Linked DNA regions of Homo sapiens: regions 1 and 2 are each linked to region 3. The links come from fine-mapping of genetic effects on gene expression. A gene starts in region 3. Each other region holds a variant in brackets. All regions are shown on one strand. Distances are between the middles of the regions.

Region 1 (5,218 bases), 160 kb after region 3:
TTAAATATGGCTCTAAATGTTACTCCCCATGGAGCCCTTTCTAGGTATCTCAGGCCAGAGTCCTCAAAGGAAAGACATAAAGATTTGACTATATGAACATTAACAATCCCTGGACGTCAAGAAACACCACAAATAAAATTAAAAGACAAAGAACAGACTAGGAACAATGTTTTCAACAATTACGTCATTCAGCCTCCCGACTCAGCCAATGGGTGGATGATTCCTGACTTTCCTCCCCCAGAGGGGTGGGGAAGGTGCAAGGTGACTTGGGAAGACAGCCAGCTTGGGGCACAGGGAAGGTGCTCAGTCGAGGCTTTTCATTTTCTTGAATGAATGAATGAGTGAGTGAATGAATGATGAAATCTGCATCCTAGGTACTGTGTATCTTCCTTTGAATTCTGCCCCATTTATTTTTATTTTTATTTTTATTGTTATTATTATTTTTGAGATGGAGTCTCCCTCTGTCACCCAAGCTGGAGTGTGGTGGCGCAATGTCAGCTCACTGTGACCTCCACCTCCCACGTTCAAGCGATTCTCCTGCCTCAGCCTCTTGAGTAGCCGGGACTACAGGTGTCTGCCACTGAGCCTGGCTAATTTTTGTATTTTTTGTAGAGACGGGGTTTCACCATATTGGCCAGGCTGGTCTTGAACTCTTGACCTCAGGTGATCCACCTGCCTCAGCCTCCCAAAGTGCTGGGATTACAGGCGTGAGCCACAACGACGGCCTATTTTTATTTTTATTTATTTATTTTTTAGATGGAATCTTGCTCTGTCGCCCAGGCTGGAGCGCGGTGGCGCAATCTCGGCTCACTGCAACTTGCACCTTCTGGTTCAAGTGATTCTCCTGCCTCAGGCTCCTGCGTAGCTGGGATTACAGGCGCCACTACCACACCCGGCTAATTTTGTGTATTTTTAGTAGAGACAGGGTTTCACCATGTTGGCCAGGCTGGTCTCGAACTCCTGACCTCAAGTGATCTACCTGCCTCAGCCTCCCAAAGTGCTGGGATTACAGGTGCGAGCCACTGAATTCTGCCCTATTTAAATGAAGAGAAGACAGATCCTCGACCACAAAGAGAAAGTGGTTCGCTTCTGTTGCTTACTGTGGGGTTGGCGCTGTGGAACGTCCCAGCCTCCTCTGAATTCATCTGGAAAACGGGTTTAAAAATTCTTACTTCCCTGCCTCCTGCCTCCTCCCTAGAACGGACGTCAGTTGGGATGAATCAGAGCCTCGGTATTTTGGCTCAGCCGTTGTTTTGGCAATAAGAATGATTAAACAGATAGTTTATTTATTTTACTCTCATCTTCTGTACCCACATCTCTGGAAGAGCTGTGTTCATAGGTGTGGAGACAAGTAAAGAGCTTTCTGACGAGTCAGAAGCTGGTCATGGGAAGGAAATGAGGGCATCTCCTAGGTAAAGGAATTTTTATTTTCTCACTGGATTTCTTCTCACTTTAAACTGGTTCTTTTGTGTTCTTACTTGGCTGGGAATGTCTGGAAGTCAGCACTCCAGCTGCTGAACTCCAGAACTCAGAAAAGATGCACATAAATAGACTTTGGTTGCAGCATGAAATATTGGGTTAGACATCAAGAGGGACTTTCTAGTCAATGAGATTGTGTAGGCAGAGGAAGAAATGGAGGAAAATCATAAAACTTTCTACTCTGTGGGAAAGGTAGTTTTCTGGGAGGCACTCCAGCGCCTTTGGGTGAGACCTTGTGCCACGTTCCCGGAGGCCTGGGTGGCAGCAATGAAAGGAGGAAGTGAATGCAGCCCTGATGGCAGGCTACTGAGGACAACGCAGCACTGCTCTCCCATTTTACAGCTGCAGAAACCGAGGCAAGATCCTGCAACAAATATTTACAGAAGGTGTCTGCATGCCAGCCTTATTCTGAGTTCTGAGGACACCGCAGTGAGGGAGGCAGAGTACTAGCAAACAAGGTCATGAATATGGAATGTGATATTGTGCAATGATGGGGCTGGACAAGGAAGTGAGCGGTAGGGAGGGATGGAAGCTGCTGTTGAAAGAATGGTCAGGGAAGGCCTCTTTGGGGCAGGGTCATGTGAGATGAAATGACTCACCCAGGGTCATTTAGACCCCAGATACAATTGAGTCTGCTTCCCTGGCTCCTAGTCAGGGGTTCCTCCAGGGTGTTTTTGGGCCTAAGTAACAGAAAACCCAACTCAAAAAGGCTTACGCCAAGAAAAAAAAGTTTGTCTAAAAAAATCCAAGGGTAGAACTTGTTTCAGGAATGTCTTGATCCAGGATCTCAAATCACATTGCCAAGCCCTGCCCTCTCTTATGTCTCTGCCTCTTCCACAAGGGTTCTAACTCCCAGGCTCCCTGTGGGAGCAGGAAGGTGACAGTGTTTCCAGGCCCACGGCTCCCAGGTTCAAGCTGGCAAGAAAGAGCTGCTCCATCCTCATCCATTTGAACAAAAATGCTGGGCCTGACTCCCTCAGCCAGGTTTGGGTAACAGACCCGCTTTCTGAACCAATGGGAATAGCTAGGGGGATTTTCTGCATGGACTGGGCAGGCTGTGTCCCAGGCCCATCCTGGAGCCCTGGGCTGTGGGAAGGGAGGGAGCATCCCCAGGTGAAGTTTTGACCCTTGTTAGCAAAGGAGGAAGGATGATTCAGGCCGGCCCCAACCTAGCCATGAAAGTGCTGCCTGGCCCCCTCTCTGTACTGTGTCCACATCCATCATTTCCCCCAGGCTTTATTGAGCACCTGCTGTGTGCGTCCATCTCTGTTTCCCAGAGCTTAGACTTCAAGGTATAGGAATTG[T/C]TTTGTTTTCATTTTTTTTTATAATCCTCCAAGATCTTCCAGTCTACTTGAAGAAACAAAAGCCACATCCTGTTTTTTATCCTGTCTTTTTGTGGCTTGCTCATGGCATGAATTTTCTAGCTGTCAACAAAGGGAGGGGCGCTTTTGGGCTGGAGGAGTCAAGAGGCCTTCAGGAAAAAGGAGGGCTTTTGATACATTTTCTTTCTTTCCTTCCTTTCTTTCCTTCCTTCCTTTCTTTCTTTTCTTTCTTCTTTCTTCTTTCTTTCTTTTTTTTTTTTTTGAGACAGAGTCTTTCACTGTTACCTGGGCTGGAATGCAGTGGCCTGATCTCAGCTCACTGCAAACTTTGCCTTCTGGGTTCAAGTGATTCTCCTGCATCAGCCTCCCCAGTAGCTGGGATTACAGGTGTCTGCCACCACATCCAGCTAATTTTTTGTATTTTTAGTAGAGATGGGGTTTCACCATGTTGGCCAGGCTGGTCTCGAACTCCTGACCTCGTGATTTGCCCGCCTTGGCCTCCCAAAGTGTTGGGATTACAGGCGTGAGCCGCCACGCCTGGCCCAGTGCATTTTCAAGGGTGGCTTATATCAGGAGAAGGTTGACAGAGGCTAGAACTTGATAGTGCATGCAGGCTATGGTGAGCGGGACACACACCGTGTGATTATGACTTTTTGGGATGTGTGGTTAAAATGTGTGTAGTTCTTGAACCACTGAGGTTTATAAGATTATAAGGCAGGACACAGGCACATGTTTATCTTAGTAGTCAGGTATTTATTCCAAGTTTATGTTAGAAGCAACTATGTTATTAACTTATCAGACCTGGATAACATTGTTCAGGATGAAACTAAAATTAACAAAAAATAAAAGTGGCAGGGAGTCCATTTAAACAAATATCATACATATAGGTGGTAGCAGACATGGCAAAAATGTTGTTATGAGAATGAGTAAGGCTGGGCGCAGTTGCTCACGGCTGTAATCTCAGCACTTTGGGAGGTCAAGACGGGCGGATTGCTTAAGGTCAGGAGTTCGAGACCAGCCTGGCCAACATGGTGAAACCCCATCTCTACTAAAAATACAAACATTAGCCAGGCATGGTGGCGCATGCCTGTAATCTCAGCTACTCGGGAGGTTGAGGCAGGAGAATCACTTGAACCCAGGAGGCGGAGGTTGCAGTGAACAGCGGTCCCGACCCTGCACTCCAGCCTTGGTGACAGAGCAAGACTCCATCTCAAAAAAAAAAAAAAAAAAAAGTAAGTTTTGGGAAATGCTGGTCTAGCCCTCAGATTCTGGAAGCAGAAAGACATGGATTCAAATCTCAGACCCACCCCACATGTACAGTGAAGCTTTGGGCCAGCTGCTTCACCTTTCTAGCCCTCAGTTTTCTGACCAGTAAAATGGGGCTGAGAATGGGATAGGAGCAGTCTCACGGGAGATGTTCAGGAATCTCTGAGATGTGGTTATGTGAAATGCCTCTTCTCCAAGGGGACATTCAGTAAGTTAACTCTCCATAATCTGGATTATTTTTCCCAGGAAAGAAAGAAAAAAAAAAAAGGCCGTCCAGCTACATGTGCAGGAAGTGCAAGGGCCAGAGGTGGGAAGGAATGTGGCAGGTTAGGGAGACTGCTGCAGTGGGGTGGGGTGGTCCCTGCAGGAGAGAGCAGGGATGGTGTTGTGTCAGGGAGGAGAGGATTTGCAATTTTACAGGAAACCTATGGAGTAAATAAGCCTCCTCTGGGACTACATGTGGTACCTTGGAGGACGGGCTTACCTGTTTCACCCAAATCTCTTTTTGCTCCCAGCAGACCTCTGAGCGCCACTGTCCACCGCAGCCTGGGGCTGGGCTCATCTCTCCCCCATCCAGAGCTTTCTGTGCAGACAGATTCTGGTGAACCTGGGTTGGGCTCCATAGATTTAATCTATGTTGTTTATCTTTTAAACACCATTAACCACAAATTAGCTGATTCTTTTGTGGCTATAAATTAATAGATTCCATTAGTGAACAGCAAATTACAGGATGATTACTTTTCCTCCCTGAACTTGGAGCTTTTTTTTATAGCTTTTTGAGAGGGTTTGGTTCTGTCCTCTTCCTGCTGCCGCTTTCCTATCTAGGTTCTTTGTTCATTGGACCAAATCTTCTGAATGGCCCGGGAGGCTGAGAGTGGGTGACATGGACTATCTTTGTAATGAGGTTATAAGCCTGTTCGCTTTGCAGAAGCAAAACTGACTGGAGGTTTGTTTTCAAGAGAATTTTTGTTTCAATCACAGACCAAACCAGCAAAGTTGCCACCTCCTTTTACTCCTGCGTATAACATAAACACATCGTATTTGCTTTTTCTTCCATAGCTTTGTTACTTCTGAGGCCTCATTCTGGTAAATACTGGATAATCTTTTCTTTCTATCCATCTGTCTATCCATCCATCGATTCCCTTATCCAT
Region 2 (5,218 bases), 320 kb after region 3:
TCTGCAGGGAGGAAGCACACATCCTCTTCACTGCGTATTCTTTCTTCTTCTTCACACCGTCCCCAGTTATTGGAGTGCTGCAGAAAACGTGTAGCCAGGCACATGTCAATGACACGTTTCAGCAGGGTGCCTCCTCAGATATGGGATTTCCAGGTCAAGCAGTGTGTGATTCTGATATTTGCTGAAATTGCCCTCTAGGTTAATCTGTATTTAAATCGAATCCTGAAGCAGAAATGGTCAAAACAATTCTTGGTTATACTTATTTAGAAGACATGGGCAATGAATGAAACCAAACAAACAAACAAAATCTCTTCCCCCAAGCCCCTAACCCCTCAGCTGGAATTCACGGAGCTCTGCTGAATTATTGCTGGTTTTTAAATCACTGAATGTGGTTTGTGGAATTGTTCTCATAAATGGCAAAAATGTAACAAATGCATACATAGTAACCAAGTAAATTGGCCTGTTAAGAAATAAAAAGGGTAATTAAAAGGGTACTCACAGTTCCAATCTGAAATAATATGATGAGAAGATTTTTAAAACTACCATTTGTTGAGAGCTGTGATGTACAGAGTCTTCAGATGCATCTGATTTAATCTTCCTAGCAACTCCCAGGAACAGAGGCCATTATTATCCCCCATTTTACAGACAAGAAGAACGAAGTTTACAGGGAAAGTGGCTTGCAGGGTTGGGTTTTGGACTACACGCAGCCTCTAAAATCTCTCTCAAGGTACCTGCTTCTTCATAAGCTTCACATTCTCTTTAAAAGATACTCACAAAGAACATGAATGCTTTCTTTTGTAATATCAAAAGTAATAAACATAAAAAAACTAGCTGGGGGTGTGTGTGCTATGTGCCTGTGGGCCCAACTACTCAGGAGGCTGAGGCGGGAGGATCACTTGACCTCAGGAGATGGAGGCTGCAGTGAGCCGTGATCATATCGTGCTGTTGCACTCCATCCTGAGCAACAAAGCAAGGCTCTGTCAGAAGAAAGAAAGAGAGAAAGAGAAGAAAGAAAGAGAAGAGAGAAAGAGAAGAAAGAGAGAAAGGAGAAAAGGAAAGAAAGAGAGAAAGAAAGAAAGAAAAAAGAAAGAAAGAAAGAAAGAAAGAAAGAAAGAAAGAAAGAAAGAAAGAAAGAAAGAGAAAGAAAGAAAAAAGAAAAGAAAGGAAGGGAGGGGAAGGGAACGGAAGGGAAGGGAGGGGGAGGGGAGGGGGATGGGGGAGAGAAGGGGAAGGGGAGAAAGAAAGAAGAAGGAAAGAAAGAAAGAGAAAGAAAGTGATAGAGATGAAGAGAGTGTCATCTTCACACAATGAAGAAAGGAGTGATTAGATCACAAACTTGGCCTTCCAGCCAGGCAACCCCACCTTCAGGACTTTCTCCCTCTGTGCATATCTGGTCTTCTGGTGTGGTTCCTGCACACATGGCTTCGGTCCTCCACACCACTGCCTGAGTGCGAGGTGCTCTGGGGTAGAGATGAAACGGCAGTATGCCCTACAACCTGCCCCTGCTCAAACAAAGGGCGGTTTTCACTTGCAAATGGTGGCTCCAGATTGACCAAAAATTAAAAAGCAGAAAAGCAAGAGTTGGCCAGTTTGCAATGGAAAAACCACTCTCTGAACATCGGAAACATTCTGTGCAGTGTTAAAGAGCATTCTCCTAAATGAAGAATTGACTTGTCTGTTTAATGTAGCTTTTTCTTGATTTTTCTTGATGCCACTCATAGCAAGTGGTATTTTTCAAAAATTATGATCTGTCTGAAACTGATACACTCAGGCTTGGTGGTTGGACTGGCCACTGATAATTGGAAACAGGAACTGTGCAAGCGGCATTCTTCAAGGGAAGAGCAAGGAAAGGCAAACACACACATTCCCGGAGGACTTGTGACAAACAAGGATGGCTCGGGTCTGGTTTTCAACCCACAGGCTCAAGACTTTTATTCCTTTTGAATTTAAAAGACCAGATGTTGGTGAGTATTGGATGTCCAATGTCACTGTCAACTGCCAAGAATGTCCAGTTTTTTGTTTTTTTTTTTGACAGGGTCTTGCTCTATTGCCCAGGCTGGAGTGCAGTGACGTGATCACAGCTCACTGCAGCCTCCACCTCCCGGGCTCAAGTGATCCTCCCACCTCAGCACCACCCCCTTACACCCCACAGTAGCTGAGACTACAGGCACATGCCACTGTGCCCAGCTAATTTTTGTGTAGATGGGGTTTCGCCATGTTTCCCAGGCGGGTCTTGAACTCCTAGGTTCAAGCAGTCTTTCTGCCCCAGCCTCCCAAAGTGCTAGGATTCCAGGCATGAGCCACCATGCCCAGCCGATGTCCAGTTGTTGCAGCAAGTCCTGAGAGGCAACAAGGTGGGCAGAACTTCCTCTAGAAGCTGAAAATGGCTTCTCCCTAGAACCTCCAGAAAAGAACACAGCCCTGCTGATCCTTGATTATAGCCCAATGAGATACATTTCAGACTTCTGGCCTCCAGAATGGGAAGATAATACAATAGTGTTGTTTTAGTCTATGAAACTTTTAGTGAAGTGTTAGAGCAGCTCTGGGAAATGACCAGCATAACTGAGGCACTGGGCAAGTTGATTACTTTTCTGGATTCCCTTTTCTTTTCATTTGTAAACTCGTATAATCTAAGGGAAGTGTGTATATTTCCTTACCGTCTTTTACCATCACGTGACAACAAGTTGGTGCAAAAATTCTTCTTTGATTGCAACACTGGGTAGAATAAAAAAACAAAAACTATGTAAAACAGAAAATCGGTTCTTGCAAAAAGGAA[G/A]CAAATTGAAACATAGAACGTTTGAGTTTCATTTAGAATTGTAAAAGCATGGCATTCCAATGCTCTCCTCCCATGAGCATCTGCAAACTACGGCGCCGAGCTAGGAGAACAGAGTCTCCCGTTCTACATTTCAAATGTGAGCACAGTCTGTCAAAGGTAAATCACACACTTCCATCGGCTGGCATTTTTCAAAAGATCAATTATGTACTGACATCTCCGTGCATATAGGCACAGGATTATTTACAGCCACCACGCGAGGCTGAGACGTAGTGAGAATCTGGCCCTAAGCACAGTACAGAAATTCATACTCAGACGGCTGAGGAACGAAGGCAGTTCTGGAAGCTCAGTGGACTGTCAGAGCTTCTGCCTTACAGTGGCCGGTGCGTGGTGGAGCTGCCCACACCACAGGTGGCCCTTTCCCGTCCTCTCTTTCCCCTCCCAGATCTGCTGTTAGTTTCCCAGCCTGGGGCTTCCCACTGCCCACTTCCACCCAGGACGAGGGACGGGAAGGCTCTCAGGGAGCCGCCAAGTCAGTCCAACCCAAACACCTGTCAGAGAAACTCGGCTCATCAACAGGAGTCCACGTGATGGCTTAAAAACAGTCTGTGCTGGCTCATGACACGCGAGGCATAAATTAAATCATAACTGAGCATGCTGTTGACAGCACGTGATGACAGGTGTTGTGAATGAGTTGGCGCAGGGGCCACTGCCCTGCCTCGCGACTGTCAGTCATGGCCACTCCTCGCTCCTCTCCCGCTGAAGGGGATGGCTTGTCTAGCGATGAGGGGAGAGCCATTCGAGGTATCCGGGGTGGGAATTGGCTCGGGCATGTCTCATTCTCCACAGATGGCATCGGAGCCCCGTGGTGTCAGCGCATCTCCCACCAGTGGCTGGGCCGAAGCCTCTCTCAGGTGTGCAGTCCTGGGGCCCTGGGCCCGTTCACCCATGCAGGGAGCTCTTCTCCCGGCACCCTAGTGTCCACACCCGTCCCAGGTTCCTCAGCTGCAGTGCACACAGTGAAGGCACCAGCAAAGCAGGGACAGCCAGGAACAGAGCAAAACCATAGGGAAATGCATTGATGAGCGATATTTCCAAAATCAAAGGTCTCGGCCGGGCACCGTGGCTCACACCTGTAGTCTTAGCACGTTGGGAGGCTGAGATGGGAAGATTGCTTGAGCCCAGGAGTTGGAGACCAGTCTGGGCAAGAGAGCAAGACCCTGTCTCTATAAAAAATAAAAAATTAATAAAAATTAGCCAGGCTTGGTGGTGGTGCACCTATAGTCCCAGTTACTAGGGAGGCTGAGGCAGGAGGATCCCTGGAGTCCAGGAGTTTGAGGTTACAGTGAGCTAGGATCACACCACTGCACTTCAGCCCAGGTGACAGAGACCCTACTTCTAAAAATAAATATATATGGCGGGGCTCCATAGCTCATGCCTGCAATCCCAGCACTTTGGGAGGCTGAGGCGGGCAGATCACTTGAGGTCAGAAGATCGAGATCATCCTGGCCAACATGATGAAACCTTGTCTCTTCTAAAAATACAAAAATTAGCTGGGCATGGTGGCGCACGCCTGTCATTTCAGCTACTTGGGAGGCTGAGGCAGGAGAATCGCTTGAATCCGGGAGGCAGAGGTTGCAGTGAGCTAAGATCACGCCACTGCATTCTAGCCTGGTGACAGAGCAAGACTCCGTCTCAAAATATAAATAAAAATAAAGAAATAAAAATAAAAATATATAAAAGGTCTCCAAGTAGTGGAACATTTCAGAACTTTGTTGGACTTCCTATTTATGTTATGAATGATTACAGTTTTTTGAAATTGCCTATGGCAGAAAAACCGTAGTCCTTAGATTGTTTCTGAAAATGCCTTCTAGTCTGAGAAACCCCAAACCCAGACTCCACTTCACTTCCATTCTCACTGTCAGGATGGCTTCTCCCTGGGAAACCCGTAAGTCTTCTCATTCCTTCTTCCCAAACAGCCCCCACTAGGCTGCCTTTCACCAGGCCGCCTTCTAACCCCAACTTTCAGGTCCAATTCCAAAGCTCCCTCTCCCAAGAGCCCTCCGTGAACGTCCTGGTGAAAACTGGCCTGCGCCGTGGCTACCACGCATCATCCCGCCCATTTTGACCATAGCACTTGTCACAATCTGAAGTTGTCCTGGTGAAATCTGCGGGCTCATCGTCTTCCACGAAGCCCCTGGATGGCAGGGATCCCACCCAGCTTGCTCGTGACAGTCCCCTACCCTGGCCCTGCACCTGGCGTGAAGGATAAGCTCTGCGGACGTTCCCGGAGTGAAATGAGTGGATATGTAAACCAAACGCGCCCGGGTGCCCTGGGCATCTTCTGTGCCCGACCCCAGTCATCGCTCCTCTGCTCTGTGCCTTCATGGCAGGATGACCAAAGAGGAGTTGTGACAGCTGTCACAGTGTGTTACTGTCACCACG
Region 3 (5,218 bases):
ATTTTGGAGTGGCTGTGACTTGATGTCTGTGGTGCCCCAGGGCATGCCCTTACTGGACATAGATACTTCAGGGTGCCCTTTGACGCCAGTGTCGGTCCAGTGGGTGCCAGTGCCGCGAAGGGAGGGTGGCGGGCGTGAATGCCCCCTCCTCCTGGGTTTGCCGCAGGCCCCGGCCTTTCCACCTTGCTTGATCCTGGCGGGTCTGCCACTTACTGAGGTCCCTACCGGCGCTCACGTTGTCCCGAGAGGCGGGACAAACGTCCGGCGCGTGGCGCGGAGTCTGCGAAAGCGCTCGGGGGCCTCCATCTTCTGCTCGGGAGTCCCCTCCCTGGGGCGGGAAGAGGAGTCGCAGATCTGCCCGAATCTTGCTCTACCCGCCTGGCCGCCTTCTTCCGTCTGGGGTGGGGGCAGGGGTGGCGGATGACTCAGGCCTGGGGCCGGGAGCCCTGTTTCCAAAGGCACCACCTCGCGCCTCTTTGGAAGTGGCGCGCTGTTGGGGCGCTCCCGCTGTTGCAGAGGCCTGGTTTGCGGTTTCATAGGGGCGTGGGTCCAGGGCTTCCAGGGAGTAAGTGAGTTTAGGCTCCCTAGGGGGCGGTAGAGGGGAACCCCCGACAACCTTCCATCCTCTTCTCCAGGCGGCTGCGAGGCCTCCGGGGTTCCAGAGGGGTCCCCTTCTGCCGGTGCCGGCTGTCTTGAGCGCGGCCACGCAGTCCGCGTCTTCACGTGGGCAAGGGGCGGGGACGTTGGAGGGAGGCTGTCTTGGATGCTGGAGCCTTCGGTTCCCGGCTCTGCTGAGCAGAAAAGTTGAAGTCAAGGAAGGGTTGAGGCTTCCTCACAAGGGCGCGCGCGTGCCTGGGTGCCGGCCCAGAAGCCGAGAATGTGCGTATTGGGGAAGGGTCTCCCGTGCCGAGAAGACAGAGGATTTGTTCTAGCTGCCTTCCGTACAGAGGGCGCGGAGGTTGCGCTCCAGTTCGAACGCTTACCCATTGGAAAGAGGGCAGCGCCGGGGTCCAGGGAAGCTCCTTGGGAATGAATGGCCTTTGCCAAGCGGTTCCGGATCCTCTGGGTCCTTTGGGCCCACGGCACGGTGCTGCGCGAGCCCTCAGTGCCCATCGGCTCCCTTCGCCTCCTGCGTAGACGCTCCCAGGCGGGGAGGCATATCGGTTCCTCCGGGCAGCTTTGGCTAGTGTTGCTGTGGGAAAGGAGAGCCAGGGCCTGGGATGGGGGATGAGCACCTTCTTGCCCATTCCGGGCCCCAGCGTGCAGGAGGTAAACTTGCCAGCACAGACAAGACAGCTTGTTCAAGCTGCACCTCAGGCCGGGTCAGAGAATAAAACCGAGGGCTAGAAGGCCCAGAATGTCGGACAGCCCAGCGGCACCCGTCAGGGAGTCCCAGGCGCCCGAAAGAGGCGCCGCACCTCTGGCGAGTCTAGGACCCATCTTCCTGGACCTGTGCTCTGGAGTGCCTGCGGGCCTGGGTCTAATTTCTGCTTCTGGCAGGTGTCCCCCTCCCCCGCCGCTAATACCAGGAGCGCTGCTTCTGCGGTAACTTATTTTACCCCCAGAAGCCTGTTTTGGGACCGAAGTGTCAGGGTCCTGTGTGTCTTTTTATGCACTGTTCTCCTTAGTGCAAAGCCCTGCAGATATGCTTGGCCGAAAAGTCTCAGTGGTTTCAACTTCCAGATTTTGTTCCCGCGTCCGGTCGGAAAATCACCTGGGATTTGGCTGCTGTCTAAGGCCGGGGGAAAGTTTCCCTTGGAGGACGCCTATTATTATTATTTTCTTTTAGGCCCACCTGGGTCTAAATAAATGCTAAAGTTCAAACGAACCCGAGAAGGAACAGCGAGGCAGTGGATGCCGCCATTCCGTGGATGGGAGAGTCATGTCTACTGCAGGTGCGGACACCGTACTGATAGGCATTGATTATTGCAAAATCGTATTCAGTATCAAATAGAAATAGTCTTGTCCTCTAATCCCCACAGAATGTTTAAATCCAGCCCAGGGAGCCAGTTGGGGCGTCCCAACAAATACGCCCTCGAGAATTAGCGATGTTCCCCTTACAATGAAAGTCAATTGCTGCATAATAACTGGGCCAAAGAATTTCGTTAGTTTAAATTTTAAAAATTAGTATTGCACTTTGCTTTCAAGTTTGGGTGGCAAGTACCGAAGGGGAGAGGGAAGCAGCGTTTGTGTGGAAGGAAGTTTCGTTTTCTGTCTAAACATGTGGGACCTGGGTGTCTACCTCTCCAGTCGAGAGCTCTCTGCAGGCTCTCTCCCAACTTCCTGCACCTCCTCACCCTCACCTTACCCGTGGCGCTCGGGTTTTATTCCTGCCCGGCGCTTCTTTCCCAGGGCGAGTAGAGGCTTCTGAGTGACCGGCCCGCCAGAGGCAGCTGCAGAGCCGGCGTTCCGCAGGGCAGGGCAGGGCCGGGCCGCTGGGCTGGTCCAGTGCGCGCGGGTTCCCCCTGGCCTCAGCCAGCCGCGGGAGATGCCACTTCGGGCGACAGCGGCGAGACGCCGCTGTCCGCAACTCCTGGGCGGGTAGGACCGTCTGCTGCCTCTGCGGCCCTTGGGGCAGACTCCCCAGGAGTCCCTTCCTCTCTCCTCCCGCCCGGGGGCCGGGACCGCGCTGTGCCCACGGAGGGAACTGGGCGTCTCTGGCGCACTGGGGCTCCAGCTGCATGATCCCAGCTCAGACCTTAAGCCTCAGTGGGGTGTAGGTGGGATGGGATGTGTTTTTAGGAGATGAGGAGACCCCGGTTGTTGAGTCGCTCCCCAAATGCGCAGTTTCTTAACTCCAGGTGACATCCGTCTTTTGGAGGAACGAGTGAAGGCCGTTTAGGCGAAAGAGGGGTGGGTTTCAGTATTTGGATCCCTTCCCCCAGCTCTGCCAATCTCAGGTGTGTTTACGGTGGAGGTGACAGAAGGAAGGCGCGTCGGGGGACCCAGGCCTCGCAGGTCTTCGGCTGTCAACGAGGCACCGCCCACTGACTCCGCGCTTCGTCCCTCACAGCGTGGGGCTCGGCGCTGCGCCAGGCCCGGGTGCGGGGCGGAGCTAGGCTGGGACTGGCTGGGGGCCGCCCCGCCCGGCGCCTGGGCCTCCGCGCCGGCCCCCGGGGAGGAGTTATGATAATTTCCTTCTCATTAAGGCGCTCGGGTCCCCCGGCTATCGCCAGGACACACTGTTCGGGCGCGGCTTTCCCCGTCCGCGGAGCGGTCTTGACACTCGCGGCGGCAGCATCTACGCTCGCAGAGCCGCCGATGCGTGTCCAGTGACCCGGACAGCAAGGCCCGCGCGCGGCGGGGGCGGCGGCAGACGCCTGGTCACCGTGACCCCGATTTTGGATTTACCGCTTGGGGGCTGGGGGGATCCTGGATTTAACTGGCGACTGTTTTGGGGGACGCCGGACGCCATGTTGTGGAAAATAACCGATAATGTCAAGTACGAAGAGGACTGCGAGGTGAGCTGGGGCTCCGGGGTGCAGCCCCGCCCCGCCGAGGACAGTCCGGGAGGCAGGGGCCACTGGACCGAGGTCGGGGACGAGGGCATAGGAGCCCTGGCCTCTCGGTGGGACGGGATCCACTTCTCCGGACACCCCTTAGTCCATTTCTGCGGGGCCCCTTTCCTGTATAGGGCCTTTTCCTAAATAGCCTCCCCTCGGGAACGAGGCCTGGAAAGAGAATGGCAAATCCCACCCACACAGCTTACCGGGCGCTTTCCTAAGCGGCAAACAGCCCTGCTTCCCGTTTTCTCGGAAAAGTGCCCCGTCTGCAACCCTCAGACGTGGCTTTTACGCACGAAGTCTCTGTCCAAAGGGGTCAGATGAGGCTACCTGCTAGCGACACCTTGGCGGACACTCCTCCAAGGCCGGCTTGTCACCTGCCCCGCTACCTCCTCGGGGAAGCACGAAAACAACCGAAGTTTGGCTTTCAAAAGAAGTGGGGGCTGGGGAGTGGTGGTGGGGGTGCCCGAGGCCAGATGGGGCCGTAAGAGCTCGCGAGTGCTCCAGCCTGTCGGACAGGTTGAGCTAGAGTTTCGGAGAGTGGGAGGGAAGAAGGAGGCGGCGAGCGGGAAGAGGAAGAAGACGCAGGCAGCGCTAGGCGAGCTCAGGGGCGCCGGGAGCGCGGAGCTCGGGCTACGGACTCGCGGGAGTTCACTGCGCCTCCGGGCCCTGGAGGGCTGCCCCTGCCCGCAGGCCCGGGCGCTTCCGCCAGGAGGCGACAGCGCCATGTTCCTCCAGGTTCCCGGCGCCCCGAGACCCCTGGGCAGATGGGGACGCATCCTTTAGAAACTGAGTCGGGCCGCCCAGGGGCGAGGGAACGTGCGCGGGCAAGGCTGCCCAATTTCCAGGGTTCTTCATGCCCCCTCTGCGCCCCGACGTGCGAGAACACTGCCCTTGGCAGTGCAGGGCGCCCCCACTTATTACTCCCCTCGGCTGGGCCCGGCCAGCAGGGAGGGCCGCCCTGTGCGCGCGCTCCCTCTTCACTTCCCAGGGCGGCGCAGGGTGGCGGGCCCTGCTTTCCGAGCGCCGCCCGCTCGGAGGTCTTTGTCCCGAGGGCGTGGAAGGGAGGGTCCCGGGGGCGGGGGAGGTGCGCATTTCCCGCGCCGCGCACTCTATCCGCGCCTGCCGCGCTGCCACCTCCAGCAGTCCCTGCGTCATGGGCGGGCTCCACGAGATAGCTCTGCACCGGGCGTCCGGCTCCTTCGCCCCGGGCTCTGGCTCCTTCGCCCCGGGCTCCGGCCACGGACTTTTCTGGCCCAAGACCCAGGGTTCGGACTTGGCGCCTCCAAGCGCCTCGGGCTTGGGAGCAGCGCCTAGACCTTCGCCGCCGGGCTTTGAGAACTCGTTCCCCCAGGTCTTTCACCAGACTCTCCTCCCTCCCCGCACTCTTTGCTTACAACGAAATCCTCGGGGCGCATTGCCCCCGGGTACCTTCCGACCCTGGGCAAGCCCCGCCGGGCGGGGTGCGGTTGGTCCCCCGGGGCCCTCTGCGTAGCCCGGCGATGCCGGCCAGTTCGCAGTAGCGGGGTTTCGCACTAACGGGGTCTCCTGTTTTTTTTTTTCCCTCCAGGATCGCCACGACGGGAGCAGCAATGGGAATCCGCGGGTCCCCCACCTCTCCTCCGCCGGGCAGCACCTCTACAGCCCCGCGCCACCCCTCTCCCACACTGGAGTCGCCGAATATCAGCCGCCACCCTACTTTCCCCCTCCCTACC

Which allele goes with the higher level. Positions count from the first base shown, and alleles are read on the strand shown. Sizes are in standard deviations (SD) of each study's normalised expression.
In carriers of allele C in region 1, the expression in fibroblasts of the gene that starts at base 3,175 in region 3 tends to be higher than with T alone (moderate effect, 0.41 SD a copy in GTEx).
For the expression in testis of the gene that starts at base 3,175 in region 3, allele G in region 2 goes with a lower level than allele A (small effect, 0.22 SD a copy in GTEx).

What was found. PIP is the estimated chance that this variant, and not a neighbour inherited with it, causes the effect. A credible set is the group of variants that fine-mapping cannot tell apart.
Region 1: its variant is the best candidate, but not a certain one, in a credible set for the expression of TFAP2C in fibroblasts (GTEx, PIP 0.73).
Region 2: its variant is the best candidate, but not a certain one, in a credible set for the expression of TFAP2C in testis (GTEx, PIP 0.72).

The regions. Positions count from the first base shown.
Region 1 is chr20:56,786,519-56,791,736 of GRCh38, forward strand. No RefSeq gene overlaps it. Among named protein-coding and RNA genes, the nearest start is that of TFAP2C, 160 kb to the left of the region's middle. RefSeq lists enhancers at 1,843-2,602, 2,603-3,361. The variant T/C (reference allele first, on the strand shown) is at 2,784.
Region 2 is chr20:56,949,777-56,954,994 of GRCh38, forward strand. No RefSeq gene overlaps it. Among named protein-coding and RNA genes, the nearest start is that of BMP7-AS1, 260 kb to the right of the region's middle. The variant G/A (reference allele first, on the strand shown) is at 2,777.
Region 3 is chr20:56,626,132-56,631,349 of GRCh38, forward strand. TFAP2C (transcription factor AP-2 gamma) reads left to right here and starts at 3,175. Exons shown (of 7, transcript NM_003222.4): 1 at 3,175-3,461; 2 at 5,074-5,218. The coding sequence starts at 3,414. RefSeq lists an enhancer at 962-1,722 and silencers at 3,086-3,145, 3,202-3,496.